Homo sapiens: one gene and its partners. The protein of the gene in region 3 purifies or fractionates together with the protein of the main gene of each other region. This does not show direct contact. Each region holds a gene or a part of one and is shown on either strand. Other genes may lie near its edges. The genes, in order: XPO5, FAM162A, TSPAN31, ALG14, ZDHHC7, GPR89A and RHOBTB3.

Evidence for each region.
Region 1: the proteins of TSPAN31 (region 3) and XPO5 purify together in Homo sapiens (affinity purification with mass spectrometry; one large-scale study listed by BioGRID and IntAct). This does not show direct contact.
Region 2: the proteins of TSPAN31 (region 3) and FAM162A purify together in Homo sapiens (affinity purification with mass spectrometry; one large-scale study listed by BioGRID and IntAct). This does not show direct contact.
Region 4: the proteins of TSPAN31 (region 3) and ALG14 purify together in Homo sapiens (affinity purification with mass spectrometry; one large-scale study listed by BioGRID and IntAct). This does not show direct contact.
Region 5: the proteins of TSPAN31 (region 3) and ZDHHC7 purify together in Homo sapiens (affinity purification with mass spectrometry; one large-scale study listed by BioGRID and IntAct). This does not show direct contact.
Region 6: the proteins of TSPAN31 (region 3) and GPR89A purify together in Homo sapiens (affinity purification with mass spectrometry, with the first as the bait; one large-scale study listed by BioGRID). This does not show direct contact.
Region 7: the proteins of TSPAN31 (region 3) and RHOBTB3 purify together in Homo sapiens (affinity purification with mass spectrometry; one large-scale study listed by BioGRID and IntAct). This does not show direct contact.

What each region holds. Positions count from the first base shown.
Region 1 is NC_000006.12:43,569,515-43,574,003, forward strand, and holds part of XPO5 (exportin-5), read right to left. Parts: intron 4,088-4,489; coding exon 3,966-4,087; intron 3,065-3,965; coding exon 2,992-3,064; intron 1,481-2,991; coding exon 1,343-1,480; intron 1,171-1,342; coding exon 988-1,170; intron 1-987. UniProt on the Homo sapiens protein: Mediates the nuclear export of proteins bearing a double-stranded RNA binding domain (dsRBD) and double-stranded RNAs (cargos). XPO5 in the nucleus binds cooperatively to the RNA and to the GTPase Ran in its active GTP-bound form.
Region 2 is NC_000003.12:122,404,038-122,408,526, forward strand, and holds part of FAM162A (protein FAM162A), read left to right. Parts: intron 1-220; coding exon 221-326; intron 327-3,243; coding exon 3,244-3,352; intron 3,353-4,489. UniProt on the Homo sapiens protein: Proposed to be involved in regulation of apoptosis; the exact mechanism may differ between cell types/tissues.
Region 3 is NC_000012.12:57,743,551-57,748,789, forward strand, and holds the start of TSPAN31 (tetraspanin-31), read left to right. Parts: upstream 1-1,488; 5' UTR 1,489-1,604; coding exon 1,605-1,667; exon of another isoform or gene 1,668-1,681; intron 1,682-1,872; exon of another isoform or gene 1,873-1,889; intron 1,890-2,194; coding exon 2,195-2,362; intron 2,363-2,625; coding exon 2,626-2,706; intron 2,707-3,038; coding exon 3,039-3,170; intron 3,171-3,467; coding exon 3,468-3,581; intron 3,582-3,665; coding exon 3,666-3,740; 3' UTR 3,741-4,974; coding exon of another isoform or gene 4,975-5,067; 3' UTR 5,068-5,239. Other genes in the region: CDK4 (cyclin-dependent kinase 4), read right to left, coding at 4,975-5,067.
Region 4 is NC_000001.11:94,978,578-94,983,066, forward strand, and holds part of ALG14 (UDP-N-acetylglucosamine transferase subunit ALG14), read right to left. Parts: 3' UTR 1-4,489. UniProt on the Homo sapiens protein: Part of the UDP-N-acetylglucosamine transferase complex that operates in the biosynthetic pathway of dolichol-linked oligosaccharides, the glycan precursors employed in protein asparagine (N)-glycosylation.
Region 5 is NC_000016.10:85,001,536-85,005,035, reverse strand, and holds part of ZDHHC7 (palmitoyltransferase ZDHHC7), read left to right. Parts: intron 1-452; exon of another isoform or gene 453-686; intron 687-1,792; exon of another isoform or gene 1,793-3,371; intron 3,372-3,500.
Region 6 is NC_000001.11:145,624,633-145,629,121, reverse strand, and holds part of GPR89A (Golgi pH regulator A), read right to left. Parts: intron 1-4,489. UniProt on the Homo sapiens protein: Voltage-gated channel that enables the transfer of anions such as iodide, chloride, bromide and fluoride which may function in counter-ion conductance and participates in Golgi acidification.
Region 7 is NC_000005.10:95,786,163-95,790,651, reverse strand, and holds part of RHOBTB3 (rho-related BTB domain-containing protein 3), read right to left. Parts: intron 1,891-4,489; coding exon 1,794-1,890; intron 1-1,793. UniProt on the Homo sapiens protein: Rab9-regulated ATPase required for endosome to Golgi transport. Involved in transport vesicle docking at the Golgi complex, possibly by participating in release M6PRBP1/TIP47 from vesicles to permit their efficient docking and fusion at the Golgi.

The DNA of each region.
Region 1 (4,489 bases), on a different chromosome or scaffold from region 3:
TTTGAGGTCAGGAGTTCAAGACCAGCCTGACCAACATGGTGAAACACCATCTCTACTAAAATACAAAAATTAGACGGGCATGGTGGCAGGCACCGGTAATCTCAGCTACCCGGGAGGCTGAGGCAGGAGAATCGCTTGAACCCAGGAGGCGGAGGTTGCAGTGAGCCGAGATTGTGCCACTGCACTCCAGCATGGGTGACAGAGTGAGACTCCCTCTCCAAAAAAAAAAAAAAAATTAGTATTTTCCTAAAGAACTTCTGAAAATAAAATTAAGAATAACACCTAGGGCTGGGCTCGGTGGCTCACACCTATAATCTCAGCACTTTGGGAGAGCAAGGTGGGTAGACCACCTGAGGTCAGGAGTTTGAGACTAGCCTTGCTAACACAGCGAAACTCCATCTCTACTAAAAATACAAAAATTAGCCAGGTGTGGTGGCACATGCCTGTAATCCCAGGAGGTGGAGGCTGCAGTAAGCCGAGATCCCTATCTTTTTTTTTTTTTTTTTTTTTTTTTTTAAAAAAGGCCAGGTGCCGTGGCTCACACCTATAATCCCAGCACTTTGGGAGGCGGGCGGATCATGAGGTCAGGAGATCAAGACCTTCCTGGCTAACATAGTGAAACCCCGTCTCTACTAGAAATACAAAAAATCAGCCGGGCCTGGTGGCGGGCGCCTGTAGTCCCAGCTACTTGGGAGGTTGAGGCAGGAGAATCGCTTGAACCTGGGAGGCAGAGGTTGCAGTGAGCCGGGATCACACCACTGCACTCCAGCCTAGGTGACAGAGCGAGCCTCCGTCTCAAAAAAAAAAAAAAAAAAAAAAGAAAGAAAATGAGCTCCAGTTTTTCTGTCATTTCCTAGTTTTTTATTTTTTTGCTTATAAAATAGGATTTCATTTTGCTGACCTAGACACCCTAGTTCCTTACTGTAAGATTAATCAAAAACACTCATATTGGAAAATAGAAATGTTATAGGTAGGGGTATCCCTTACCACTTGCTGATACTTGTTTACATTTTCTTGAAGTGTGTTAAGCAGAAAACTGAAGATCCTTTCCATGTTCTGGGTTAATGTTTGCTGGATGTCCCTTCTTCTTTGAGGGGGAAGTGTCTGAAAAGTCACTACATCCTCTGCCAGTCGCAAAAGGATAAACATCACCAATTCTGTCTGTGTTTCCTACACCAATAGAAATAAGCTAGTTAAAAACTAAAATATCTTTTCATTTTATGTATATCCAAAGGCTATTTTCTGTTGCCAAAAAAAAAAACCCACAAACAAAATCAAACAACAAACCCTGAAGTTTGTTCCAAGGAAAAGTATACCAAACTGATATAGCTGTGTTTCATACCCCTTGTTTGGAAAGAGTGTCCAATTCTATTAGCATGTCAGGCCAATGCTGTGGCCACTCTCGCTTGATCATTTCCACTACAATTCGAGACAGAGCATCTTTAATATGGTTCTCCTCTTCCAAAATGTTCAATGTTCCCTGAAAAAGAACAAGAGATATTAAGAGATATGCAAGACTGGATTCCAGACTTCCAGAAAAAAGCTGGGCTGTAGAGTTGTAAAAAATTTATCAGCAGGCCTACTTTTAAACCAAACAGAACAAATGAACCTGTTCTTCAGCCTGAGTCACTTGTCCTGCATTCTTGCTAATCACTCTTCCGCTTAAAGCTTAAGTGAGGGTTGCATCACCTAAAAGGCTGTCATATCGAGAGCTAGGATGACATCATTATTCTTTACAAAATGAAAAGATTCTCATATTGATTGTTTCAGTTTGCAGAAGGCCAGGGAGGAAGAGTATAGAAATAAGGAGTATAGTGAGTAGCTGGTAAAATGGAAGGGTATGAAGGGGCAAATGAATATTTTACCAATAGTTCTAACACTAGAAGACGCAGAAGTATTAGAAGATCCCATCTCTCATGTCTGTTATTTAAAAAAAACCAAGAAAGAAAAAAGGCTACAATTTTGAACATGTTTAAAGTCATATTCTGTTTTGTGTTTAAAGAGACAGTCATCCAGTCATCACACCTGTAATCTCAGCATTTTGGAAAGCCAAGGTGGGAGGATTGCTTGAGGCCAGGGGTTTGAGACCAGACTAGCCTGGGAAACACAGTGAGACCCTGTCTCTCTAAAAACCAAAAACAAAATTAGCTGGGCATGGTACCACATGCCTATAATCCCAGCTACTTGGGAGGCTAAGGCGAGAAGATCACTTGAGCCCAGGAGTTCGAGGCTGCAGTGAGCTATGATCATGCTAATGCAATCCAGCCGGAGCAACAGAGACTCTGTCTCAAAAAAAAAAAAAAGTCATATTCTAATACTTGAAACAAATTCATTCTGCATACTTAAAATTCTGCATGTTTTTCATCATTAGTATCACATAGTAGTTGTTTGGAATAAAAGAAAATAGTGTTTCAATCTAATTTAGATCTAAGAATCTTATTGATTTGTTGAAAATATTTAATCCCCTCTGCCCTGTCTTTATAATTTAAAAAATAGAAGTCAATACATAAGCATGATTAATTAAACCTAGTAAGAGACATATGCTGAATTATGCTTTCTGCTTTTGTTTTGTTTTGTTTTTGAGATAGGGTCTTGCTCTGTTGCACAGGCTGGAGTGCCATGGCACCATCACAGCTCACTGCAGCCTGGACCTCCTGGGCTCAGAAAATCCTCCCACCTCAGCCTCCTGAGTAGCTGGGCCACAGGCATGCGCCACCACGCTCAGCTAATTTTTGCATTTTTGGTAGAGATGGGGTCTCACTGCATTGCCCAAGCTGCTCTCGAATTCTTAGATGCAGGTGATCCTCTTACCTTGGCTTCCCAAAGCGCTAGAATTACAGGTGTGAGTCACTGTGCCTGGCCTAAATTATGATTTCTTGTGCTGTCTGACCTATTTAGAAGCAGTGAATTTTTACACAAACTCCCTATTGAAGAAGTCACGCTTTGCCTAAACTACCTTGGAAACATGTCTCCCAACCACCCATTCCTTACATTTGCAATCAGCTCCATGACACTGTTCTTCAGATACACCTTCTCCAATCGAGACATGCCGTTCCACCGAAACCTGACCACCAAAATGCATAAAGTCAATAGAACCACTTTAGAAGTCTTGTCTTTACAAGAGAATAGCATGGATTTCTACATTTGATTACACTGGAGATTTCATTAAGAAATTATACTTTTGATTTTGTACCTGTCAATGAATGGGCAAAAATGATCTACATTTAACCAAAATACTAACACAAAAATTCTTGGGAAAAGGTTTTATATATGCAGTGGTCCATTAACTGGAATCCGCACAAGATTTGTACCACACGTCAGCTTTGCCTCATGATTTTATTGATGGGCCAAAAGTGAATATACATCTAGGTCAACTGCAACAATGTACTTGCTTTTCAGAAAATGCAGTTTTGACATCAGTCATTTTCTGTGCTGGCTTACAAAACAATTCTGGAAAAACTATGGCTAAGTCTTAAAGGCTACCTCTTCTGATAGGTGTTGAGGGTAGGACAATCAAGTTAGGATGGGTTTTCAGTTATTCTCATACAATCCTGCTTTGGATGTACCACCCAGAGAAGGCACACAAACTCAGAAAGACAGAGAGAAAAAAGAAAGCCACAGTGCCTAATCAGAGATTCATTGACCTATACATTGCATTACTCTAAAAAGGCTTCGAGGGCTAATGACATATAGTCAGAGCTCAGTAAGTATTGGCTAAATGGCAGGTAATATTTGTTGAATGGGTAATATGTACCACACACTTTACATGGATGAAGAAACTGAAGAAAAGAAAGGTTAAATCTTGAATGAGAGCTCCTGTGAGGTTCTGATAACATCTAGGGGATCATTCCTCTCTTCTTGGAGATTGCTCTTCTCTACTCACCTAAACAGCATCTCTATAGGTTATATAAGATATAAAGATCTGTTCTCTCAGACTTCAGTGGTAATGTCCAAGAGCTCCTTACTTGACAACGTGTTCCAGGATCTGAAGGCCAAAATGTCTGACGATGGCAACTTGTGTTTTCTCAGCCAACCTCAAGCCACAGGGGACACAGATAGGACACTTTTCTTTAAACTCCTCACAAAACTGAAAGAAGAAAAGTTAGTGTTTCCTTTCGAGGGCTGAGAGAATAGGGACTAAAAGAATTTCATCTTAAGAAACTCCAACCAGGGCCGGGTGCGGTGGCTCACACCTGTCCCAGCACTCTGGGAGGCTGAGATGGGTGGACTACTTGAGTCTAGGAGTCTGAGACTAGCCTAGGCAACATGGCGAAACCCCATCTCTATTAAATATATATATATATATATATTTTTTTTTTTTTTTTTTGAGACGGAGTCTCACTCTGTCGCCCAGGCTGGAATGCAATGGCATGATCTCGGCTCACTGCAACCTCTGCTTCCCAGGTTCAAGCAGTTCTCCTGCCTCAGCCTCCTGAGCCCATGTAGCTGGGACTACAAGTGCACGCCACCACACCCAGCTAATTTTTGT
Region 2 (4,489 bases), on a different chromosome or scaffold from region 3:
GTCAGACAAGCTCCTCACCGTTTCCTTGGGATTTTATAATCTTATTTGGAAAATGAAGCATCCTAAGAAATTCCATTCAAATAAAGTTCTAATTAACTTGAGGTTTCTCAGTGTTTCTGTTTAGTGACTAGTTAAAAAGCACTAATACCATTTTTCTGTTGTTAAATTTGAGAGTTATAATCTCAAACACATAAAATTTCTTGTCTGGTTTTTCTCATAGGCACTTACAACAGAGTGCCTTTACACAAACCTACGGATTGGCAGAAAAAGATCCTCATATGGTCAGGTCGCTTCAAAAAGGAAGATGAAATCCCAGAGACTGTCTCGTGAGTGCTGAATTTAGTATTACAAGCAGCTTTCATTTCTCACTGATCTAAGGGAAAAGCAATGCCTCTGAGTTCCAACTGTTTAAAACTTTTCAACCAAATTTGAAAACATTTTTCACTTTTCCAAATGTTTTATCTTTGGTAAGTACTTGGAATATAAACAATGCTAGAAAACCTGTGTCTTATCATTGTTAAGTTACACAGTGACTGGTGAAGAACTGTCAGGTACTCTGAAGTCAATTGATTATTTGATTTCATCCCCTGGCTACAGAAGTGTGACTTTTTTAAAGTTTGTTTTTAATCTAGGTATATAAATTAAGTACCATTGACAATGACTGTATTCCCCCAAATCCACTTAAGTACTCAACCTTAGGTGTAAAAGTATTTAATTGCAATATTCTGGAATTCAGGAAAGAGTGCTTCCTGTCACCAACTTCCTTAAACCTAAGGGAAGGGATCTTGGCTGGGATCATGGAACTTTTTCAGAGTTTGTAGATGATGAGTGCAGGTTCCTCCAACCCAGTTTCTCAACTCAGTACTATTGATATTTGGGGCTTGATAATGCTTTGTGGCAGGGGGGTGTCCTATTTGTTGGAAGATGTTTGGCAGCATCCCCGGCTTCTGCCCCCTACATGCCCGTAGCATTGCGGCAGTGCTGACAACCAGAAATGTCTCCAGACACTGCCAAATGTCCAAGGGGCACGAGCGGGGTGGGAATCTCCCCTGGTTGAGAACCAGTGCCCTAGCCTCATGTTAAAGACCCTGACTGGCTGGCATCTTGGCTAAAAAGAGATTCTGAGAAATAGATGTCATCTCCTCTGTGAGGCATCATCCTATTCAGGGACAGGGACTTCAGACAAAGCTCGTGGAAGTTCCCTGTCAGCAAGAAACTATTCCTGGATCTTCTGGTCTCTGGTTTCAAGTCATGATTGAAAAAGATCTGAGCTCATTCAGGATTTCTTTCCCAGGGAAATATGTAGTATTTACTTTCTGTTTACAACAGCTTTAATAGAGCTTTTCTGCTTCTGCCAGTCAAATTGATAGCACATTACTTTAACTAGAATTATTTCAGCAGGAAAGCCCTGGTTTTTCTTAGCTCAAGTCATGTATTCTTCTGGGAAATAAGAGAATACTGGAAATAACAGTGACATCAGGTTCTTGCCTATGCCCTAATTCTTCCTATACCAGCAGAAAATAAGCTGGTAGACACCCATGGCCTTAACAGATGCTGTATAGGCTTTGCTATAGAACACCTTCCTCAGTCTGCCTAATAGTTGGTTCCAAGATCCCCTCAGGCCCAAAATACTACCTCACGAATCACTCTGGAAGGGTCTTTTCTGGGCCTGGGCAGCCATTTGTCCTTGTGCTGGTAGTTCTGAACAGGCACTGCTTAACTTGCCCATTCCTATTACTCCCTATGGAATGGATTACTTTTCATGAGGATCATGGCACTTCAAATCCCATAAAATACCGTCAACATGGGAAGTCAGTTTGTGGTTAGTGGAATCTCAGGTGCTCCTAACTGACCAATTTGACAGTCCTTAGCAGTTGTCTTGGGTTCCTGCCAGCCTGCAGGCCCAGCTTAAGTGCCTGGAGAACCCCGTCCACATGCTGCCTCACAGGTCCCAGCTCCTACATCACATTGTACATGGCTTCATCATCTTCCTCCTTCCACCTGCAACATCCCAGACTCTTTGCCTCCTTCCAAGCATTTTTAAAGTACTCCCCTCCCCAATTTTAAAAGTAATATATGTTAAATATCTCAGGGGAAAGAAAGCACTTCAATCCCATCATCTAGAGATAATCACTTCCTATTTACACATCTACTGAGAAGGCCATAAGTTAATCCTGGGCCCCATAAGGGCTCCACATCCCCTGCCTTGAGGTTCTGCCAGACACCGAGGTAACAGAATCGTGACCACCAGGTGTGGCAATGCATGCCTATAGCCCCGGCTGCTCAGGAGGCTGAGGCAGGAGGATCGCTTCAGTCTAAGATTTTGAGTCAGCAACATGGTGAGACCCCATCTCTTTAAATAAAGTAAATTAAAAATAGAACCATGACTCACTGCCTACTTGCAAAATCACCAAGGTAGATTGGCCTTTAGACTCTTCTATATTAAGCCTCTTAGGTTTCACACAAGAATGATGAACCAACCATCAACTTTTTTTTAAGGCACATGGGTCTGTATTCAGTAGATAGGTTAGAAGAGCTGCACTTTGGCACTTGCCAAAGACCACAATATCAAGTTCACTGTCACTCAATTTTAGCAAAACATTTGTTTAAAAAGATAAATATTGAGGAGCATTGCTTAAAGGATCTTCCTACTATTTTAGATATTCTCAAATCTATTCTGGGTTCAAGACAGAGAGCAAAAAGCTGGGTATATGGAGCACATTGGTTAACTTTCTCCAATGTTTGATCATTCTGAATTGTGCTTTGTGTTGAAACATATGAAGCTTATTGTAGTATCTGTTGTCGAGATGTTTTCAGACGATGACTACATCACATAATGTCTTCTTAAGAACCTCAGGGAGAAATGACTGTTTCACTTCTAGCATTTATAGGCTGCTTGGAAACCTGAGAGCCAAAATTGGGGTCCACCATAGCAAGTGTAGATTAATATGCCTTGCCCATTTTTTTTTTTTGGCTTTGTTCTTGACTTCTCTTTTTGTTTTCTTCTTTTGTACTTAATTGTGTGCTATCCTGTATTTTATACATAAATGAGTTACGAAAAATGCCTCATCCTCCCCAAAGTCCTATGAGATCTCTAGGCCCTTTTTAAAGAGATCTCTAGGTCTCCCTATTTATATTTATAGACACTACTACATTTTGAATTTATACACAGCCTTTTATCCTGAGCAACTTCAGAAAGGGAAAAGTTAATAACTTTCTCTCATGATCTCATTGTATTACTAGGTTGGAGATGCTTGATGCTGCAAAGAACAAGATGCGAGTGAAGATCAGCTATCTAATGATTGCCCTGACGGTGGTAGGATGCATCTTCATGGTTATTGAGGGCAAGAAGGTGAGAAGGGGTTTCTTCTCTATCCAGTATGTATGTTCTCCACCAAGAACCTAGAGTAAATCAGGGATTGACCCTTGTATTTACCCTCTGAGAAGAGGAGGCTACTTTCTACATTACATGAGAAAAGATAAGCAAAAAAATAAGACATATTGGGAACAAGCCTGGAATATCATCCTTGGGGATAGATAGCAAATCCTAACTTTGGCGTGGTGAAGAAGGACTAGATTCATTTTGTGTAATGTAAATTTAAAAAGTGTTTCTGATGACAGGTGTCATAATGTAAATTAAGAAATAGGACACTGGCATATTTAATCACCCACTGCATATTTCCAGAGTGCTCTTGGTACCCAAGTGTATTTACCCTCACCATAACTGCCTTCAGCATGGTGAGCTTTCTTAGCGGGGTTCTTTATTTGAAGCTCAGCCAGACAGGGCCATGTGTCTAAGGACCACAGCTCCTAAGCAGTACATAGGAATACAAGTCCAGAAATCTTTAGCACAGATTATAATTAATAGCTATCACTAATTGAACACTCACTGCATTCCAGGTACTTTTCTAGCTGGTATCTCATCTGAACCTCACAAAAACACTGTAAGATAAGTATTATTAGGACCTGATTTATAGATGAGGAAAACTATAGCTTAGAAAGCTTTAGTAACTTGCCCAAGGCCACATATCTCCTTAATGACGAGCCACAGTGTGAACCTAGACCCAATTCAGGTAATAGGAAAATTCCTCCCATTTATTGAGTGCTTATTATGTAACAGGCACTGTTAAGCTCACTTAATCACCCCCATAACCCTAAGAGGTAAATAGTTTTCCCAAACTCACACAGCTAACAAGTGGCAAGATAAAAATCTAGACCCAAGTTTGCAGGTTACCAAACCTCATACTATACTATCTTGCTATTAAGCCATAGTTATTTTTATATTCAGCAGCTTTGGTCAAATTCTTCTTTTAATACCATGTATAATTCTATATATCACAGCTTCCATGTGGAAAGTGATGTCTTACAACTACTTTAAGATACTAAAAAGGTCCTTCTATACACGCACTCTTAACTGACTTTCTTATCCTCAGTAATTCCAGAGTAAAAGGAAATGTACTTTTGGCTGTCTTCATTCTTGCAGTTAAAT
Region 3 (5,239 bases):
GAGCCAGGCAGGAGAATTGTTTGAACCCGGGAGGTGAAGGTTGCAGTGAACTGAGATCGCGCCACTACACTCCAGCCTGGGCGACAGAGGGAGACTCTGTCTCAAAATAATAATAATGATAATAACTTAATTACCTTGTTTCAAGACCCAAACACCTCTCTCGCCCTGTCAAACATCTATTCTCCTGCATACCTTTTTGGTATTAATTTCTGTAAGAGTTTATATAAATACTGTGTAGTTAAAGATAAGGGAATTGAGGTTGGAATTGCCCACAGGAACCTGTAAAATGACCTGAAAAGTAATAACTAACATTGAGTGTTTACTATATGCCAGGTACTGTTCTAAGTATTCTACATATATTAACTCATTTAATTCTTACAACCCAAGAGGTAGGGTGTGTTGTTATTTATCCCCATTTTACAGATGAGGAAACACGCACAGACAGTTTCTAAGTGCCTGGCCAAAGGTTACGCAGCTAGGAAGTGGCAATCTGACTGTGGCAGTAAGTCTATAGAATCTAAGTACACACAAACTTAAATCATTCTGTTGAGTTGATTGGAGGGTTTTCTTTTTTGTTCCTACTGTTTCTTTCTCCTGGGGAAGAGAAGGATTATGCCTTTCCCTACCCCCGTGAGAAGGACGGTTTGTCAAAGCACTTACTAGATAATAAAGTTGTTGATCAGCCTACCCCCAAGTGAAAAGGTGGAGGCTCCTTCCACTTATATTTATGTAAATGAGACTCTTCCTCTTGCCTGCCGTTTTTTTGCAAGCCCTAGATCAGGCGTGTACTCTGAAAATGCTGAGCACACCCCTCTGTGCACTTGTGGCAATGCCACATACAGGAATGCGCTGGCCTGAGGCCGCTATTTCCACACTGAATTTCTGGTATATTCACACCCCTTTAGGAGGAGATATGGAACAGGACATGGGTACTAGAGGACACACAAACGTGTGATGATTTGCTGGGTGTTGCTGTGTCCAACCCGCGGACTCTGCGGCCGGGCTAAATAAGCTCAATATGTGGCTCCTTTGGGTGTTCCCGAGCGTGACGCAATAACAAAACAATGGCGTCATCGTGAGGTCACTGCAGAACAGGGGGAAGGGGGTGGGGAAGGGCCCTCCTTCTACGGGCGGAGCCCTTTTTGCCCAGCTCTCAGAGCGGCCCCCTACCCGCCCCTCCCGCCGTCTCCCCTTCACCTAAGTTCCTCCAGAGCCGTCTCCCTGGGAATTAGCCCTCTCCTAACTCCGACCACAGAAAGCTCAGCTTTCAACCTAAGCTTTTGGAGTTTAGGCTGTAGTCCCTAAGAGAGTCTCTAGAAACCCTGCCCCTAGTTTTAAGTTTCGCCCAATGAAAAAACAAAAGGAGAGGGACAGAAGGCGGGTCGGTGACGTAATGCGGGTTGATTGGCATGCAGGCCTTGGACGTCCAGGATTAGCCACGCATTTCGCCAATCCAGAGGCAGGGGAGGGACGGTGCAGGCGCAGAGTATTGGGTTTGGCTGGCCTCGATTTAAAGAGACAGAAGCTGTCGGGGTCCTGGAAGACGGTCCCCAATACCCTCCCCCCAAGTCCTTGGGACCACTTGGGTCCCCAGAGCTGGGGAGATGGTTTGTGGCGGCTTTGCCTGCTCCAAGAATGCGCTTTGCGCTCTCAACGTGGTCTACATGGTGAGGTTTTGGAGGTGGGGGAAGCTTCAAGGCGGAAAGGCCCCGTGGGGAGAATCTCTAGGGTACTTCCGGTGGGGAGAGGGGTGTATGGGGGTTCCGGGAAGATTCCCAGGAACTTCCGGCGACGAGGGAATTCCTGGGGACTTCCGTGGGAGAGAGGAGACTTCCGGTTGATTAAGGGGGTTTGTCTGAGGGTGGGGGAATGAACTGAAGGCCGTGGGCGTAAGTTCCATACCTCCTTCCTGTGAACCTCAGTTTCTTCCAAACTGGAAGTGATAGGATGATCCTGAGGGTTCATCTTTTGCATTCATACTACCATCCCTGCCACCCCCTCCCCGCCATCCTAGCCATTCTAACCTTTGGGAGTGCCTAGGGATGCTCCCGGTGCGGATAGCACCATCCCCAGCTCCCATTCACACACTATTCCATTATTCCTTCCCCCTGCCCCGCTCCCAAGTCCTCTTGTATGGCCTTGGGCTGTGCCGCATGCTAGAATTGTTGAGATGTATCCTGCTCTTTCTTCGTAGCTGGTGAGCTTGTTGCTCATTGGAGTGGCTGCTTGGGGCAAGGGCCTGGGTCTGGTGTCCAGCATCCACATCATCGGCGGAGTCATTGCTGTGGGAGTCTTCCTTCTCCTTATTGCAGTGGCTGGACTGGTGGGTGCTGTCAACCACCACCAAGTCCTGCTGTTCTTTGTATCCTGACCTGAAGTGATGGGGGCAACCGGGGGCTTGGGAGGGCTGTCATCTAAGGAAGATGTTAGAAGGGTAGGGGACCTCAGGGATCTTGGACACGTCTCCTTGCCCTGCCCTGTCCCATAATCTACGAAACAAGAGCTGATTTTATTGCTTTCAATTTGACATGGTGGTGTAAGTTCTATGAACAGATGAGACCAGACAGTTATTATAGATGAAACATAAAGGAATCTAGGACTTTTTTCCATAACCTTTCCTCTCAGTACATGATCATCCTTGGTTTGGTCTTCATCTTCCAATTTGTAATCTCTTGCTCATGTCTGGCTATTAACCGAAGCAAACAGGTAAGACAGTACCCTTTCAAGTACTTACTTGCTTTTTAAAATTTTCCTCTTAACCTCGAACTCCTTCCTTAGTCTGGCCCCAACTACCCAAAGATCATCCTTAGGTGCACTGCTTCTGGCCTCTTGGGCTATTTGCTTCCTCTGGGATGTCTGGTTAATTTTCCATGAGGATGATCTAGAGAACCTCAAAAGGTAGATATTTATCGTGTCTATAATTGTTGCACACCGTTATGCTTCTGTTTGACTTCCTTTGCTGGGCTAGGGAAATTGAGGCACTTGAACTGATAACAGGATGTAGGGAGACTTAATTTCCCTCTACCCATATCTTTCAGACAGATGTCATCAATGCTTCTTGGTGGGTCATGAGCAACAAGACTCGGGATGAACTGGAAAGAAGTTTTGATTGTTGTGGCTTATTCAACCTCACAACCCTGTATCAACAAGATTATGATTTCTGCACTGCAGTGAGTGTGTTGGGGGTGGTGCAGCAGCCAGGGGAGGTAGGAAACTGGGTAAGGACAATGCCCAAGTTGGCAAATTTAGTTTGAATGTCATTGTTTCTCTCTCTACAAGCCCTCTTGTATTGGGGCTGTGTTGGTGGGAGGTGGGGGTGGATAGAGGCTGGGGAATTAGCCAAGTAGGATTTTAGTTTGTAGGACACTGGTCAGATAACAGTAAAGTTTCTAGGGACATTCGGCATAGGTATTAGTCACTAGCAACTTTACATTCACAACTTTGCATTCTTCACGTTTTATCCTCAGATCTGCAAGAGCCAGAGCCCCACATGCCAGATGTGTGGAGAAAAGTTTCTTAAGCATTCAGACGAAGCCCTGAAAATCCTAGGGGGTGTTGGACTCTTCTTTAGCTTTACAGAGGTAACATTCTCCAGTTCCCTCACACACATCCTTTTTGAGACTGAGAATTAATTGATACTTATCTCTCTCCCTTTGTTCCTACAGATCCTTGGTGTTTGGCTAGCAATGAGATTTCGGAATCAGAAGGATCCTAGAGCCAACCCCAGTGCCTTTCTATGAGACTTTGGATCCTTCTGACTTTTCTTCTGCTCTCTCTAAGCTTTCTCTTCCTCCCTTAGGGAATATCTAGGGTCTGTAACCGTTTTGGTTTGAGAAAAAGGAAAGGCCCCTTGTCACATCCTCTAAAATTGATGGAATAGCAAGACTTTATGCCTTGACATATTTTAGTGGGAGCCAGACTATAAGGAATAAAAGGAAAAACTTTCTTCCTCTCTCTCCAAGAGGATATGGGAAGCTTCTGTGAGTGCATAGGATGGGGGCTGGAGTCATTCTTAGCTGTTTCCCTTCCTCTGTCCATATACTGGATCACCTCAACATACCCTGGTGTGGCTCTAAGGGTAAATCAGGGATAGGGCCAAGGAGAAAACAACCAAGAACTCTTTCCTGTAATAAGCAGGATCCAGTTTGAGAAAGTTTAGCGAATATAAAAGTAAAAGCCATTTAAAAATCTATATTCTTTTTTTTTTTTTGACACAGAGTCTTGCTCTGTTGCCCAGGCTGGAGTGCAATGGCATGATCTCGGCTCACCGCAACCTCTGCCTCCCGGGTTCAAGCGATCCTCCTGCCTCAGTCTCCCAAGTAGCTGGGATTACAGGTGTGCACCACCACGCCTGACTAATTTTGTATTTTTAGTAGAGACAGGGTTTCACCATGTTAGTCAGGCTGGTCTCGAACTCCTGACCTCAGGTGATCCACCCGCGTTGGCCTCCCAACGTGCTGGGATTATAGGCGTGAGCCACCACGCCCCGCCTAAAATCCATATTCAAAGAAGCAATTTCAGTTCCTTTCTAAGCTTTGTCAGTCAAGGGGCTCCACTGACTTCCTAGGCCCTGTAATTTAACCAGTCTTTAAGGTTTTGCAGGAAAGTCCCTTCTTCCAAGTGGTTTTTCCAAATCGCACAATGGCAAAGCCAAACAGAGGAAGAAACATTAAAAAAAAAAAAAAGACCATTATTTCTTTGTTTTGTTTTTCCTGTATAAAAAAGGACCCCAAATATAAAGGTAGGGAAAGGGACAAGAGGGAACATACCCCTTAGTGTAGAGAAATGGGAAGGAGAAGGAGAAGCCTCAAAAGGAGAGGTGGGAGGGGAATGTCATTAAGGCAGCAAAGTAATCTCTGTAGAAAGATGGAGGAGGACCCTCCATAGCCTCAGAGATAAAGGCAAAGATTGCCCTCTCAGTGTCCAGAAGGGAAATGGCAGCTTTTCTTCCTTCCATGGCAGCCACTCCATTGCTCACTCCGGATTACCTTCATCCTTATGTAGATAAGAGTGCTGCAGAGCTCGAAAGGCAGAGATTCGCTTGTGTGGGTTAAAAGTCAGCATTTCCTGAGGGGAGAGGCAAAGGTCAGAAAACCATGAAGAAAACAGACTTCTGCCCACCCACAACAATACCTGGGATGAGCTTTCTTCTTTTTTCTTTTTTTTTTTTTTTGAGACGGAGTCTCGCTCTATCACCCAGGCTGGAGTGCAATGGTATGATCTCAGCTCACTGCAACCT
Region 4 (4,489 bases), on a different chromosome or scaffold from region 3:
GGTGGCTATGTCACAGAGTTATTTAGAGAATTTGCTCAAGCTAAATGAAGACAAAGACTTTGTGGGTGGGGCAAAATCTAAGTTGGGAGTGAAGTAGAAGGAGGACAAATATTTAAGGCATTATCCTTTGGAACTCAGGTAAAATACCACTTTCTTAGAAAGGCCTTTCCTGATTTCCCTATCTAGAACACCAACTACCTTCTACTCCGTCATAGTACCCTGTTACCCCATTTATTTCCTTTTGAGGACATTTTTTCTTTTTTCTTTAAAAAAAAAAAAAAACACCTAACGTAGCTATTAAGGTAAGCCTGGCTGGAGCTAGAATGCCTTGGTTCAAATCTGAGCTTTGTCACTTTCTAGTTCTATAATCTTTAATAAATTACTTAACCTCTCTGTGGTGTAAATATTATAAAAAGTGGAACAAGGGCCGGACGTGTGGCTTACACCTGTAATTCCAGCACTTTGGGAGGCCAAGATGGGTGGATCACCTGAGGTTGGGAGTTCAAGATCAGCCTGGCCAACATGGTAAAACCCTGTCTCTACTAAAAATACAAAAATTAGCCAGGTGTGGTGGTGCATGCCTGTAATCCCAGCTACTCGGGAGGCTGAGGCACAAGAATCGCTTGAAGCCAGGAGGCAGAGGTTACAGTGAGCCAGTAAGGTGAGATTGCACCACTGCACTCCAGCCTGGGCGATGGAGCGAGACTGTCTCGAAAAAAAAAAAAAAAAAAAAAAAAGAAAGAAAAAAGTGAAACAAGTATACAGAACTAGCATGAGGGGAAGTCTCTGAAGACAAACATAAGTAATTAACAAAATCATTCATTTGTTCCTTCCACAGGTGTTTCCTCAGTTCCTCAATAAAACTTGCTCATCAAGCAAGAAATTTTTGTTGAAGAGCTGGCTTAGGTTGTAACTATGGGACTGAAAAGGAAAGGGTAGATATGAACTAAGTCAAAGGCAGAATCAATAGGTGATGACAAAGGAGAGGAACAGTAAAAGTAATTTCAAGGAGAGAAGAGGAAGACGAGAAAATTCTGGGGATAATGAAACAAAAAAGGCAACCAATTATAATTGGGTAAAGAAAGAGTGAAAAAGCAAAAATGATCCCAAAGTTTGTTGCTTGAGGGACATGATAGAAGCTAGTGGGCTAGCATTAGTTAACTACTCCAGTGCGAAAAGGAGGAGCTATGTCAAATTCATGTTTAAAATGAGTGGGCAGCAGGAACACAGTTGTAGATGATTTGTTTTTAGAGTGCTAGAGGGATGGGCCCTAACAAAAGAATGTTGAAGGCGGACAAGATTTGGGTGTCTGCTCATTGTGCGCCAGGGCTGAAGTCATGGGAAGAAACCCCGTGAGGCTCAAACGCTGACCTGTAGGGAGAAGGACAATTTTCTTTAACACTTACAATGATGTTCTTATTGTTGGTAAAAGGTGCTTAATACATTGCTATCAAATGCCTTTTGGGGGATGGGGCTTTTCAGAAAAAAAAAAAAGCACTCATTCAACCCAAGGAACTGTATAGTAAAGGGGTACGTTTCTCAATTTTAACTTACCATGTATCTTTGAAAGGTAGAATGATGTGTTCCAAGTTGCTTTTATAAGGGGAAGCTTGGGTCATCTCCTTCCTAGCAAGGACATCTTGCTATTCAACTCACAATTGTCACCACTCCTCTTGTTGACACGGTTTCATAGCACTCTTCGTTCCAGGCTAAAGTTTCCTGTCATGATTTTTGGGCATCCTTTTTGAAACAGTTAGACATTCTGACCTGGCAAGCTACTGAGACCTTTTAGGATAGCTGGACTGTAGATAGAAATCTTCCAGGGAAGTAGGTGTGGGCAGGATGTGTGGTTTCCCTGCCTCTCATTTGAAGACTGATTCAATTAATTTTTTCATGAACAGTCTCCTACAGTAAAAGTTGCATTCAGAGTGTTCTAAGAGAAACTGGAAGGGACAAGCTAGCTACTCATCTTCTTCAGTTTGAGTTGGGACTGGCGCACTATCTTTCTGAATGTCACAGAAATGCACAGCAGGGAAATTGTGCCACCAGCCCCCTCTGCTAATGGGACCTTGAGGACTCAAATTAGCCATAACAGTAACACACAGCAGAGCATGCACTTGTTTACCAGAGTAATCTGAATGATCAGGAAGATGCAATAACACATGTCTCAGCCTGGCTCTGAATGAGTACACAGCAGCCTGAACCTATGAAAGATATAACATTTCTAAACTTTTGGTGATATAACACATACACATTCTTTCTCTGACATTCCAGGCTAACCACTGTCTTAAGTTAAGGCTCTGCAAAACATCTGGGACATATGTTTCTGGAAAAAATTATAGCATCTTTTCTACAATTCTCTCTGGTCTGATCTTTGTTAAGCTCTGACCTGACAGAAGCCTCTGCAGCAGGATTACCTGTGGGGGCCCAGGGAAGCTGCCCCACAGCACAGAGAGGCATTCACTAAACGCAGTTCACTTTCCCTTACCATTCATTTACCTAGTGCCACTCAGGGAACAAAGTACAGAGCAGAGAAAGCCTTAAACAGCAATAAAATGCAGATGCTGTTGTCCCTGAAAAAATCACTTTCTTTCTAGAACAGTCAAGGCTTATTTCACCTCAGCCCCTGGTTGTATGATACTAATACGCTCTGATACTCCAGGGAAGCAACCAGTGACTGAGATTTGAGGATTAAAATCAAAGCACAATGAACTATCATTTGGCTGCCCCAGGCCCACTAAATCCAGACAGCAAAGTGTTCTCACCATTCTGAGACACCTTCGGCTACACATTTCTCCAGCCAAAAACCTAGGAAGATGTCCGGCTGACAGATGCGCCTGTTACATGATTCAGAGAAGACAGTTTTTTTGTTTTTTTTGCTTTTTTTTTTTAAAAAAAAAAAAAAGAAAAAAGGCTGGATCAGCCTCAGGATTTTAATCTTACATGATCGTGGATAATCATGTCTCTTTTCACAAAAATTCAATCACTTCACTAATCACTATTTATTAGATTTATATCATACTTATAAAGCAAAAGATTTAAGAGGAAAAAACCTATATATACTACAGGAGAGAATCTTCTCTTTTCTGTTTTTTATTTTGTTTTGTTTTTTTTTTTTTTGGCTGCTTTGTTAAAGAAGCAGAGGTTAGAGGGAAGGAAATGGAATTCCTGTTTTTGAGGAGCTCCTGGGCCAGGCACTGCACTAACTATTGTACTTCTATTCCAGTAGACATGGCACCACTAGAAACACAGTCTCAAGCAGGACCAGCGAAAGAATTCAGAGGGTCTAAAATATAAGTTCATTGTTTAAAAAAATATTCAGAAGTTCAAGAGAGTCACAGCAGAACATTAAACCAAGTGGAGGCCCTCTTCAGTGCAGAACTCTGTGTGACTGCACAGGCCACACACCCGTGAAACTGGCCCCACTAAGAAGTCAGGTTTACCTGAACTTGAATTCTGGCTTTGCTACTTACTACTCATGTGATCTTGGACAAGTCATCTGTAAAATGGGAATAATAACAGTCCCTACATCATTGAGTTTTGTTTTTTTTTTTTTTTTTTGAGACGAAGTTTCACTCTTGTCACCCAGGCTGGATGGAGTGCAATGGTGCAATCTCGGCTCACTGCAGCCTCTGCCTCCCGGGTTCAAGCGATTCTCCTGCCTCAGCCTCCCGAGTAGCTGGGATTACAGGCATGTGCCACCACGCCTGACTAATTTTTGTATTTTTAGTAGAGACAAGGTTTCACCATGTTGGTCAGGCTGGTGTCAAACTCCTGACCTCCAGTGATCCACCCGCCTTAGCCTCCCAAGGTGCTGGGATTACAGGTGTGAGCCGTCATGCCGGCCTAAACAAGAGATTTTAAAAGATACTCTGTATTAAGGCCAACTACTCAAAAAGCAAGACTGAAGTACAAAAAATGATACTGGTTTATGCTCAAGGTTCTGGAGGCTTGTGGAGTGCAAATTGTCATGAAGCCAATTTAATATAACTGCTTCCTTTATGCTGAAAGGATTCACTGGGGACATCACTGTTTCCATACAGGAAATAAAGCCTTTTGTATCTGAACCAAAACTCAGAAATACTTTTTTTCTCTCTTCTTTTACAATGCAGAATACTTTACAAAAAAAAAAAAAAAAAAAAAAAGCTGTAGGACAGGAAATATTACTAATCATACAAACTCTATATTTAGTTCTGTAAAAAAAATACTACTAAAACAGCCAGAAGAAAATTTGCAGGTAGTAATACATATTTTTATCTAGAAAAGAAATTTGGTTTACAGAGGCATAAACATTTAGTAGTTACGTTTATCAATGTTTGTTTCATAAGAGAAGCCTCAGTTTCTTCACTGAGTCATCTGTACATTTTTTATTCCTTACCATCAATAATTCTCAGGACTGTCAGACGCCTTTACAAGAAACATGTAGGGTTTTTTTCCCCCCAATTTGAGTACATACTACTGTTAACTGCAAAATTCTAAAGAAGTCAGT
Region 5 (3,500 bases), on a different chromosome or scaffold from region 3:
AAAGGGGAACCTTTGGGGTACGAGTAAGCATTCCTTGGAGGCCACCTCATCTGGCCTGCGTGCTCTAGTGAGGTCCCGCGCACATGTTTTCTGGACCTGAAGTTGTGACTTGCCTACAGGTGGGGTTTTTCTCTTCACCCCCGTCTCCCTCTTTCTCTATAACCCTTGTGCATTTCTCTTCTACTCCTTTTCTGCCAGGCTCCTTTGGGCCTCTGGCCCACTCCCCTGGCAGATCTTATCACACGCCCCTGTCGTTTGCCTGTGGACTTCCTTTCTACTTTTTCTTGTCTCCCTCAAGCACCCTCCTTCCCTTACTTATTCACTCAAGAAATGTTTGTGGAGTGCGTGGTGAACCCGGGAGTGCTGGGGATACTATGAGTAACATTCCATTGAGGTGATGGCAGAACAAGCAGCCAGGGAGAGGCTGCTAGGAAGGGAGGCCAGCAGGCTCCAGATGGAGTGGGGCTTTCTAGGCCATGGTGGTGGGGTGGAGTGGGGGGTGGGGTGGGATTTTATTCGCACTGAAAAGGCAGTGATTGCATGAGCTTAGGGAGGGGAGTGACATGATCTGATTTACGTCTGTGGAAGACCACTCTGGGTGCTGCATGGGGGACTGGACTGTTGGGTGAGCAGAGGCATGAGAGTAGAGAGAGGACTGGTCAGCAGGTGATCTAAGCACTCCCCAGGTGAGAGCTCATGGGACCTTGGTCTGGGCGGGTGAGGAGGTGGGAGAAGTGGTCGGATTTGGGGTAGGTTTAGAGGTGCACCCCATAGGACTTGCTGATCAGCTAGATGTGGAGAGGTGGGGAATGAGATACATGAAGGGCGGGGCCTTTTTTTTTGGGTGTGGTGTGCCGTTGATTGAGATGGGAAAGAGTGGGGTCGTGACTGAGTGGGGGAGGTTCTGCTTTGACCCTCCTGCCCTGGAGTTGTTAAGTGGCCAGTTGGATAGACGCCCTTAGGGATGCATCGTCAGCCTGAGAGTTTTCCAGATATCTTTTTTTGTTTAAACTTCGTGAAACTGAGGTTCCCCATTAGCTCCTTTGTGGAGAGCATGTAGATGAAGGGAAGGCCGAGGACTAAGCCCGGGTGCTCCCGGCGTTTACATGGGTGGAGGAGAAGTATCCAGTCAGAGACCGGGTGTGGCTAGGGGGAAGGGAAGTCAGTGTTGTCCCCCAGGCCCCTCACTCCTGAGACTGGTGTTCCCTCTCCCACTTCCACGGTTCATTGTGTGCTGTGTGTGTTCCCCCACTTTGCCATGTTTTTGATCTGCAGTGTTCTGATCCTACTGTAGAGTGATTAAGTATTTTAATATGAAATGCCCTTCTAGAAAGGTCAGGCAATGTCACTATTCACCGTATGACTTACGTGCCAGCATATCATTGAGATCTGGCTTGAGTTGGGTTAATATTCTGGTGTGGATTTTTTTTTTCCTTAAAAGTAATATTCTGATCTTTGGATTCAGTAATTTGAGTAGAAAATCATGGTTTCTTAGAGCATCATTTCCTATGGTAGGATTTGAAAGGACAAACTGAATATTTCATGATTGCCAGTTGATGGCAAGAGCACTTAGGAGCGCAGTCGCCATCAGCTCACTGCAGTGGGTCAGCTGAGTGCTGCGCTCCTTTTGTGAGTTGAGGGAGGACGTGAGCTCCCTCTGTAGCCTTCCCCACCTTGACTCAGGTTCCCTGACTCATCCGGGCTGGTGGCATACCTGGGATGTGGCCCCGTTTGCACGGCCCATAGGAACCACTGCCTCCGGATCTTACAGCGCCCCCCTGGACCCAGCCTCAGTCCTGCCCCTCACTTCCTCTGAGTCTGTTTCTCAGGCTCCTCGGGCCCTCAGTGCCCTGAGTTTCGGTCACTTGGCTTACCAGGCCTCTCCTCCTGCCCCCTGGACTCTGAGGTTGGCCTCTCCCGCTTGCATCTTGGTCTTGCCTTCGTTACTCTGCTTTTCTAGCCCATCATCCTGGCTAATCTCCAGCCCTGGGTAAGTTTATGGTGCTGGGCTGGGCTTTTGGATAAAAGGACCAGCCATTCCCATCCTCTATGAGACACTTAAGGTGTCAGCATTGTCTGGGCCCTGCAGGGTGACAGTTCAGGCCCCTCTTGGCCGCCGCCTCTCCACCCCATTTCCATTTTGCGGTCTCCATAGGCCCTCCCAGCGCCGCAGCCCCGCTCCTCCTCTCTGCTGAGACACTCAGCACTCGTCTTCCTGAGTGAACTGCTTTCACTTCTCTTCATGCCCGGGTTTCCCCTTTCTTCCTCCAGGGAGGAAGGATCATTCCGCTTTGTCGACCATCCCCCCACTCCACCCACGCTTTCTCCTATCGATAAAATTCACACTTGATTCAGATTTCCTCAGCTTTTCCTTAATGTCCTTTCTCTGTCCCAGGATCCCACCCAGGATCACACAGGACATGAGTGGGCACATCTCGTCAGCCCCTCTTGGCTGTGGTGCTTTCTCAGGCGTTCCTTGTTTGGATGACTGGCACTTGGGAGCAGTGCTGTGGGTCAGGGATTTTTTTGTAGGATGCTCTTCTCTTGGGACTTGTTTGATATTTTCCTTATGACTAGACTTGGGTGATGCAGTTAGAGGGCCTGTCTCGCCACAGCCTGTCAAGGCTGTGTTCTGTCCACAGGACTCATTGCTATGGATGTGGCCTTGAACACCTGGCTGACTGAGGTGGTGTTTGCCAAGTTTCTCCTCAGTAAAGTTATTTTCCTCCTTTCCGTACTCCACTCGTTAGAAACTGTCCCTGTGAACGGCCATACTTGAGGGGTGGGGAGCAGCGTCCTCCCTGCTGGAGGAGGAGGAGCCACAGGCATTCCTCGGACTCGTGGCGCTGGGTATTTGTCTATTTTCTGTTTATTCAGCCACTGCTTTATATCAGTCTGGACTCGTGCATGTTTACTTGATGCTTCGGGTTATAAAGCAATACTATTTTATTTTCCTGGAAAAAGCTTTGGCCATTGGGAGCTCTTTTACTTGGTTCCTATATCCCTTTCATGAGCCCACCTGTCCCCATGATTGTGTGTGTGTATTGTGAACACTTCATTATTCTCTGGCAATACAAGATGCTCCAAGCTCATCTTGTATATATATTTATTTTTTTTGCCTCAGTCCTGGTTCCTTTTATTTATTAGAGAATGGTATTAAAAACCAAGATCTGTGGTGGCTCACACCTATAATCCCAGCACTTTGGCCGACATGGGAAGATCGCTTGAGTCCAGGAATTCAAGAGCAGCCTGGGCAACTAGCAAGATCCCATCTTGAATATTAAACAACAACAACAAACCAAGATCTGGGAATTAGGTGTGCTGGTGGCTGTTGGTGTGTTGCTTCTAGGCCGTCTCAGCTGACAGAGCAAGTAAATATATGTGTGGATGCTAACCCATGTGTGTATACATATCTGTAGATATTTCCATATGCAACTGCTTGTATCTTCCTTAAACCAAAAACTTAGGTCATTCTAGCTTCCTCCTCTTGCTTACCTGGA
Region 6 (4,489 bases), on a different chromosome or scaffold from region 3:
TTGGTTTTCTGCCAGGGGGGTAAGCAAAGCCAGCTTGCCCCTACGCCACCATCTTGGAACTAGCAGTCACCATACTTTTGATTGTATTCAATCCCTTCCACCTCTTTCAGAGTCTTGTTCCATCATCTGTCTCCTCTCTCTTGTATATTCAATATTTCCTTCTTTGCTAGTTCTTTCTCTTTAGTTTCAATTCTCTTTTCTAAGAGAAATTCTGTTCTTGGCTTCGAGTTTACGTCTAGTTACCAACCCCCATCTATTTCCTCCTTAATAGCCAGGCTTCTTAAAAGAAGTTTATAGTTATTGTCACCTTTTCTTCACCTCCAGTTCATTCCTTAACTGACTGCAATCCAGCTTTCTTCCCATTCTTCTTTATTGAATGAAATTACTTTCACTAGTAATTGTAATGGCAATAGGTAATATTCACCAAGCACCTGCTATGACTAGGCACTGTTCTAAGCATTTCACATGTTCTAATTCATTTAACCCTCATAACAATCCTATGAGGTAGATATTATTGAAAACCTAATTTTACAGATGAAGAAATGGAGGCACAGAGAGGTTAAGTAACTTAGTTAAGGCCACACAGATAAAAGGGGCAGAGTCAGGATTCAAGTGCAGTCTAGCTCCAGAGTCTGGGCTTTAACCACTACGACACTATGGTAATAAGTTTTCCCCTGGTTGCAAAATTCAACATTTTCCAATCCTTGTTTCATTGGCTCTTTTATGACATTGAATCATTTTTGTTTAAAATTATTTTATCTTCTTGGCTTCCACAACACCATTTCCCTAGGTTTTCCCTTTTACTTCTCTAATTGCTTTTTCTTGGTCACTTCTTGCTCTGTCTGGACCAGAGTTCTCACTTTCATTTCAGTATACACATTTTTTGCTTAGGTGATCTCACCAATTTCCCCAGCTTCACCTAATGGCATTTAGTTGATGATTTCTAGTTGTTTAGATTCCTGGAGTCATCTCTATGAGGACTGATACATGTACACCTTTTCCCTAAGCTCCTGATTTGTACATCCAATTGCTTATTTAACATCACCTGGATATGCATAAGTAACTCAAATTCAGCATATACCAAACTAAAATTATCTTTCCCCTCAACTTGTTCCTTCCTCTGCATTACCTGTCTTAGAAAATGACATAATCACCCTAACAATAAAATCTATACACTATACGATTACTTTCCATTCTATCTCTTGCCTTTCCTTGAATACACCAAGGTCTTTCTGCCTCAGGGCTTTACATGATGTCTCCTGTGCCTTCTTGCTGGGTCTTCCTTTGGTCTTGTCCTTTAAATCTCAGCTTAAATATCCCTGTCTCAGAAAGGGTGGATCTAACTGTTTGCACTACATTATCGGCATTTTTCTCTATCACAGCAACCTGTTCACTCCTTGATGACAATGATCACAATTGGCAATTATTTATTTATATATTTACCTCTTTATTGTCTAGTTCCACCCACAAGACTATCAATTTCAGGGGGGCAGAAACCAAGTTTGTTTCGTTTGTGGTTTATTTCCAGTGCTTAATTTATATAAAGTGGATGCTCAATAAATATTTGTGTAATGCTGAATGAACGAATAAATCCTCACCTAAATTCTGTTATTCTACTTGCCGTATACCTCTTGAATTTGCAACCCCTTTACAAGAAGACATCATTTCTTATTGATCTTTGTTTTCCTTACTGCTTGGCACATATGAGGTGTTCAACAAATGTTTGTTGACTATAATATCACTCAGTAACATAAAAAATCCAAGAGATTAATATGGGCTATTAAATTTGAAAAACTGAAAAAATTCCCCCTCTACCTTTATTCCTTTTAACATGGTGTCTTTGTCCTTTTATTACATATCTTTTTCTGGTTTAAAGTACTTTGTAGATACTATTTACTTAATCTCAGCATTTCTATGAAGTAGGAGTCAGTCATCATTATCCCCATTTAGCAGTTAATACATGGAAAGTCAGATGAATAAGGAGACTAGCAGAAGATCATCTCACCTTTGCCACCTGCTCACACAGATTCCTTACAGTCTTTTGTAATCTCTCTTACTCTTTCCCACTAAGGACATTCCAAGGTTGGTTCAGACACCGCACAAGAAGTACTTTTACAGATTATCTTTTTTTCATTTTACATAAGGATTGGTCTTATCTTTTTTTTTTTTTTTGTAGAGTCTCGCTCTGTCGCCCAGGCTGGAGGGGAGTGGCACGATCTCGGCTCACTGCAACCTCAGCCTCCTGGGTTTAAGCAATTCTTGTGTCTCCGGCCTCCGGGGAGTAGCTGGGATTACAGGCATGCACCACCATGCCTGGCTAATTTTTCTATTTTTAGTACAGATGGGGTTTTGCCATGTTGGCCAGGCTGGTCTCTAACTCCTGGCCTCAAGTGATATCCCTGCCTTGGCCTCCCAAAGTGCTGGGATTATAGGGGTGAGCCAACCTGCCCAGCCCATTTTTTTGTGGTCACCACAGCAATAAACAACCATACTGGTTGTTGGGACAGTCCTGGGAAAGCTCTAAGAAGGCAGTGTAAGGCTGGTTGCTTCTCAGCTACTACCTAAACTTTTCTTCCTCCTTACTTATCTTAAAGGGTTAAATAAATTAAGATACCTGAACATTCAGGCATAAAACTGTAATGCCTATTGGAGTACAATGGAAAGAATAAAACTGAAACTATCTCCCTAGCTTTCTCCCTCAGTGTCCTTTTCAGGGTAATCCCATAGAATTTAGAAAAAGGGGTGGATGAAAGGACAATAGATACAATGGCCTTCATCTTCCCTCTGGTGCGGCCTGGCTGCACTGGTCATGTGAGCTGAATGCACACAGGAGAAAGCTGGAGAAAGGTGTCAGAGTCGGGTCTTTGTAGTGCATGTGAGACTGTATTTGCCCTGTCAGCAGCCCTGGGGGCCTTTTCTAACTCTTCTCTCTGACTTCTACCGTCACAGATAAATGTGTCTGTCTGTGGGTTTCTTTGAAATAGGTTTATATGAGAACTATACTACCAGGACTCTTTAGTGCAAGTCGTTCCCTTTGTTGACCATTGACATAGGCATGCTGATCACATTAGCATTTCCTAAATTCCTATCCAGAGTGTTAAAGTAGTAAACTCATCTACCACTTTGGAGAGACTCAATTTTCTTCCATCCACTGATTCAAAGAACACGTATTAAACACTTGTTATGTGTCAGTTTCCACACTAGGCACTGGGGATACAAAGACAAATAACATGGAGTTTTCTGACCTCAGGGAGCCCATAGGTTGATGAGGAAGTTAGAAAAGGAAACATGAAATTTTAAGTTTTATAGATGATATAGATACCTTGAGATGGTAGCAATTAATATCTCCTAATGATGGCCAGGAAAATCTTCCTAAAGGAATTGACAAGAGTTGAATCTAGAAAGGATAAATAGGCATTTTCTAGGTAGACAGGGTTGGTGAAGGATTGTCCAGGCTGATAGAACAGCTCTAGAAACTTGAGGCTGGGTGTGGTGGCTCATACTTGTAATCCCAGCACTTTGGGAAGCTGAGGTGGGTTGATCCCCTGAGCTCAGGAGTTCGAGACCATCCTGAGCAACGTGGAGAAACCCCATCTCTATGAAAAAATACCAAAATTAGCCGGGTATGGTGGCATGCGCCCATAGTCCCCGTTACTCAGGAGGCTGAGGTAGGAGGATCACTTGAGCCTGGGAGTCGGAGGTTGCAGTGAGCCAAGATCATGCCACTGCACTCCAGCCTGGGTGAGAGTGAGACCTGTCTCAAAAAGAAAAAAAAAAAGAAACTTGAAATAATTTCACAGGACTGGAGAATGCAACATGTATAGAGAGCAGCAGCCAGGTCATGAAAGGTCTCATACGCCACCTAAGAGTTTGAATGCTTTTGGCAGGCTGGTGTTATGTTAAGTTTTCCGGCCTTTAACGTTATTTGAAATTTTGAAAGTTATTCTTATTTTAAAAATACACAACTATTTATGGTATTGCATATGCTTTTCAAAACTGCATATCTCCTCTGATCTTACTGCAGGAGAGTCTCATAACCTCTCTCCCGAAATTCCTGCTATAGGCAATCAGTATACATGGAAGGGTGTGTGGGAGGTATGGCAGATTCTATAATAGACACTGGCTCATTCAACATTAATTCCAATATCCTTTTCCAGCATTTGTTTTGGTACTACAGAGTTTAGAAAGCCAAAAGCCCCTTCTCAGACTTCCTTGAGGCCAAGGTTTTAAATATTACCTAGGTTTCACCAAAAAACCCGGCCCATGTGAGGCCTCAGATGCAGAAATGAACAATGTAGGGGTGGTGATAGCACTTAGGAGCTCAAACAGCTGGGACTGAGGTCCCTGATGTCATAGACCCTGAGTGGCAGGTGATAACTTCAGTGAGGTTTTCTAGTTTAGTATTGTGGCATAGTTGGGTATTTCTCTTCACTATATAGCAGTTAAGCTTTGCATCCCTACTTTCCTAGAAAGTCTATAAATTGCCTGA
Region 7 (4,489 bases), on a different chromosome or scaffold from region 3:
CCATCAAAGGAACAGAAGGCAACATCGACACATCGTTTCCTCCTTAGCCTGCCACCTCACATCGCACTGGAAGTCCTGCTTTGCACCATGCCAGGTGTCATAACATACTTTATAGGTAATTGGGTAATACCATATAATGAAAATTCATAACTAAAAGGATTTATAGACCATCCTTCTCCCAAGGTTGTAATAGTACTCCATATATACCATATATCTATACAAGATAGTAAGTAGAAAATAATCTTATTCTTCTCTTACAAATAAGAGTGACCTCAGGTAACATAATGAAACTGGCTCCAGGACCAAAGTGCAATTCATTTAACTTTTAGCAAGCTTCTTAAATAACTATAGAAGCAGCTACTTAAATAACTATAGAAGAATGTTCCTTCTGACAGCAAGCATACACAAGCCTTATCTTTATGAACTGACTGTTTTTTCCTTGCACAAAGTACATAGCTAATAAATAACTGTTGTTTTGTTTTGATGTGATTATGCTTCTCTACTGTACTAATAGTTGACTTATATAAGGAGGCTCCTAATAGACATATAATGTTTGTTGACTGGCTGAATACATCTCCCAAAAACGGATTGTGTGTTCCTGGGTTTTCTTTAACTGCACAAGTAGCTGAATAAAAACAAGAGATTTTTACTCTTTTTTCTTTTAGAGACAGAAGTCTCGTTATGTTGCTCAGGCTGGACTCAAACTCCTGGGTTCAAGTGATCCTTCAGCCTCAGCCTCCCAAGTTGGCTGGGATTACACCGAGGTGGAATCACCATCTTGACCATATGATTTTTATATCTTTTACCAGCAGAGTCTTTTTTACGAAGTAAAATTTTAGGTAGAACTCAAGATATGAAACAGATAAAGTGGAACTACTATGACTGAAGGAGGGAGGGAAGAGTCCAAGAACTGTAAATTTTAGCCTTCTCTTTCCCTTTCCCTTACTCCCTCTCTCTCTCCTTCTCCTCACCCACTCCCTACTTTCTGTCCCCCACCCTAGAAGACACTTCAGTTATCTCCACGGAGATTTATTTGTCCAGATTGTGAAACTCCTTGATCAGGTAATCTTTCACTTCCTTTTCTTTTTAGCTCAAATTTTCCTTGAGTCTATGCTAGATAATAACATGAGCAAACCACTGCATCTAAACTGTCTATTCTGACAACTATTATATTTTCATTTTTTTCTTTTTATGCAGTACTCAGTAGTTCACACTTTGGTTTTAATTTTTATAATTTACCTTAGAAAGCATATTACATACACTCCCAGTAAGTTTCACAACATTTTTTATATATGAAAAACTGTTATTCCAAAGTAATATAAGGGACTCCCATATAGGTATACTCAGTAAATACAGATATCCAGTACAATAAAGCTAAATATAATATAGTTAACAAGAGTTAAATTCCTTTATAAAAAATTTTTAAATCTGTACTGTTTAAACTTTGCTGCTGACTTAGGTAGTTAGAACTAAGATATCACTTTTCACAACCAAATGTCACCTGAGGACACATTTTGTCACCTTATCTATTTCAGGGAAAGAAAATGCATTTAAAAACGGATGGAGCTATAAAATAATCATTAGAAAACTTCTTGTGTAACACAGGTTAAGGCACTTATGTAACACAGGTGACTATAAATTGTTTCCTCAATTACCACACTGCATAATTTACAAGAAATTTATTACATTGACTATTCTTATTTTGCTAAAAGTACTACTTCTACAACTTATGTCTCAAATCTAAGAACAAAGAACATAAAGTTTTCTTTTCAAAACAGAAATTAGCAATCTACCTGAAAGATCCTGAAATTCAGGCTTTTGACTGAAGATGAGGTAGTTAGTAGCAATGAAATGAAGTAGCCAGGTTGAAAGGCAATCAGAGTGGTGAAACTGCAAGAAAAATGAAAAGTGAAATAATATTGCACATAATGGCCACTGGTATGATAAGATCAAGAGAACGGCCTGGGAGCAATCACGGAGAGCCCATATTCATGTTTAATGTGCCTTTACCTGATGCAGCTTTCAGTATACTGTGACAGCAGACAGGATGAGGGAGCACTATTAGCAAATAACGTTAAAAGTACATTCTCGGAAGAAGCCAGGCCAACAGCGAATAACAATCTACGGCTGCCGGAGTGGCCAAACGTCTTTAAGCAATGCATGGCTGCATCTGAGGTTCTTGAAGATTTAATTTGAGCTTTTAATCTGAAGCCACGGACTTCAATAACTGCACCTGTATCTGTGTAGTAGATGATGGTGAGCAATGTTAAAACAAGTTCACCTGAGGAGCAAGCCAAAAAATATTTTGAGGAGGAAACACCATCGGCCGAAGGCATGGGTTTCAATGTGTAAATGTTTCTAAGAGAAAGCTGTGGCTAAATATTTGCTTTTAATGAGATGTACAGTAAACTGAGCAGGATTTCCAGCTCCATTCTCCTCATTCTGAGTTCCAATAGCTGCTAATGGAGGGAAAACTCCAAGCAAGCAGGCCACTGACATCATCACCTTGGTGCCCATCCAGTGACACTCACTGATCCATCCAACCACCAATGCAGATGACAGTAACTTGCTGGCAGGCAACTTTGGCACATGAGTATAGAACTCTTTTTTTTATTATTATTATTGTGGTACAATATGTGTAACATAAAATTTACCATTTTAACAATCCTTAAGTGTACAGTTAAATGTCACTAATAAGTGCATACACATGGTGGGGCAACCCAACACCACTATCCATTTCCAGGCCTTTTCTATCACCCCAAACTGAAACTCTGTACCATTAAACAATCTGTTTTCTCCCTATCCCTATCAGATCCTAGCACCCACTGTTTTACTTTCTGTCTCTATGAATTTCACTATTCTAGGTACCTCATATAAGTGAAATTCTAAAATATTTGTCCTTTTATGTTTGGCTCATTTAGGGTAATATTTTCCAAGTTTCATCCATGTTGTAGCAGATATCAAAATTTCACTCCTTCTTAAGGCTGAATAATATCCCATTGTACATATATACCACATTTTGTTTATCTCTTCACCTGTCAATGGACATTTGTGTTGTTTCCACCTTTTGGCTAAGTATAGCTCTTCTAAGGAGATGCAAAAATATTAAATAAGCAACAAGTAATGCTAAATTGAAGAAAGATTAGTAATCTCTAAACCTTAATAAAAAAACTCAAGGATATGCTTTTTTTTTTTTTTAAAGCTGTATAGTGTGAGAGTATTTAAACACAAATTCACAGGTCCCTCTTATATTCATTATATAAAATCAATTTTTGAACTGGAAATAAATTTATAGTTTATCTAATCCCACATAACATTTTAACAGTTTTTTTCCTCCCCTTATCTTTTAGCAGATGAATGTGTGCAATCTCAAGGGAAAAGAATAAGAACCTTCAGCTTTTTAGAGAAGCCACCACTACTGTTACGTGATTAACCCAGAGCAGATAACAAAACACCAGGAGGTTAGGACATTGCCTTAAGGGCTGTGACTGAGAAGGAAAAGGGAGGTCACAGAAATAAACAGCTGGCTACAAAGCATGCTTAAAAATGAAGAATTTTATTTTTGACCAAGATTTAAGATATTATCCAAAATATCTTAAATACAGTAGGATGACACATCTGAATAAGCTTTCCGCTTCCAGGAATGAAAGAACTGAGGAATGAGGAATTGGTAGCACATGTGGGGGTTTGGGAAGTAGATTTCAACAGAGCAGTTCTAGCTAATGTACAGACCTGGCCCAGATTCATAGTCTAGGGACTCTGTAACAGGAATGGAACATGTCTCACTGTAAAAACTAGGTTTTAGAAGGATATGTGTTGACGTAAGAAAATGGGTTCAAACTGAAATAAGCAACAGAATTTTTAAAAAGGCATTAAAAAACCATAAACCAAATGCAATAGAACTTAAGAGCTACAAGAAGAACGTGGAGAAAATACCCATAAACTCACAAGAAAGTACCTGGAAACTCTCAGAAATACAACTTGTGCCTCAGATAGCCAAATATTAACATATAGATTATAAATAAGAAGATGCATTAAAATTTTTAATACAAGAATAAATACAACTTCATAGGAATCACCAAAGTTTGAACAGATAGGGTTTAAACAGGAGTAGAGATACGGAATCTCCACCTCAACTCTTGTATTTTAAGAGTCCTCCTTGATGGAAACCTGAAGGTAAATCATGGTAAAGAACTGAGAGAGGTTAGGGGAAAATGGACAGAGAAGTGAGAGAATACCCACACTGCTCATCTATCTAAGAAAGTATGAATGATGTTTCCTGACACACAGTACAAAACTGGCAGAGTGTTCAGAAATTTTGATTATTTGGAGAGCTACTGGGAGTCTAATTCTGCCAGAAGACAATTTCACTCCTAAAAGTCAGAGAAATGGCAAGGCAAAAGTTAACCAAATTCTGACCAACAGGGTGAACTGACTGGTGAAGTGAAATCTCAAACTAGGAACTTCAAAGAAAACTTGGGAAGAAAAC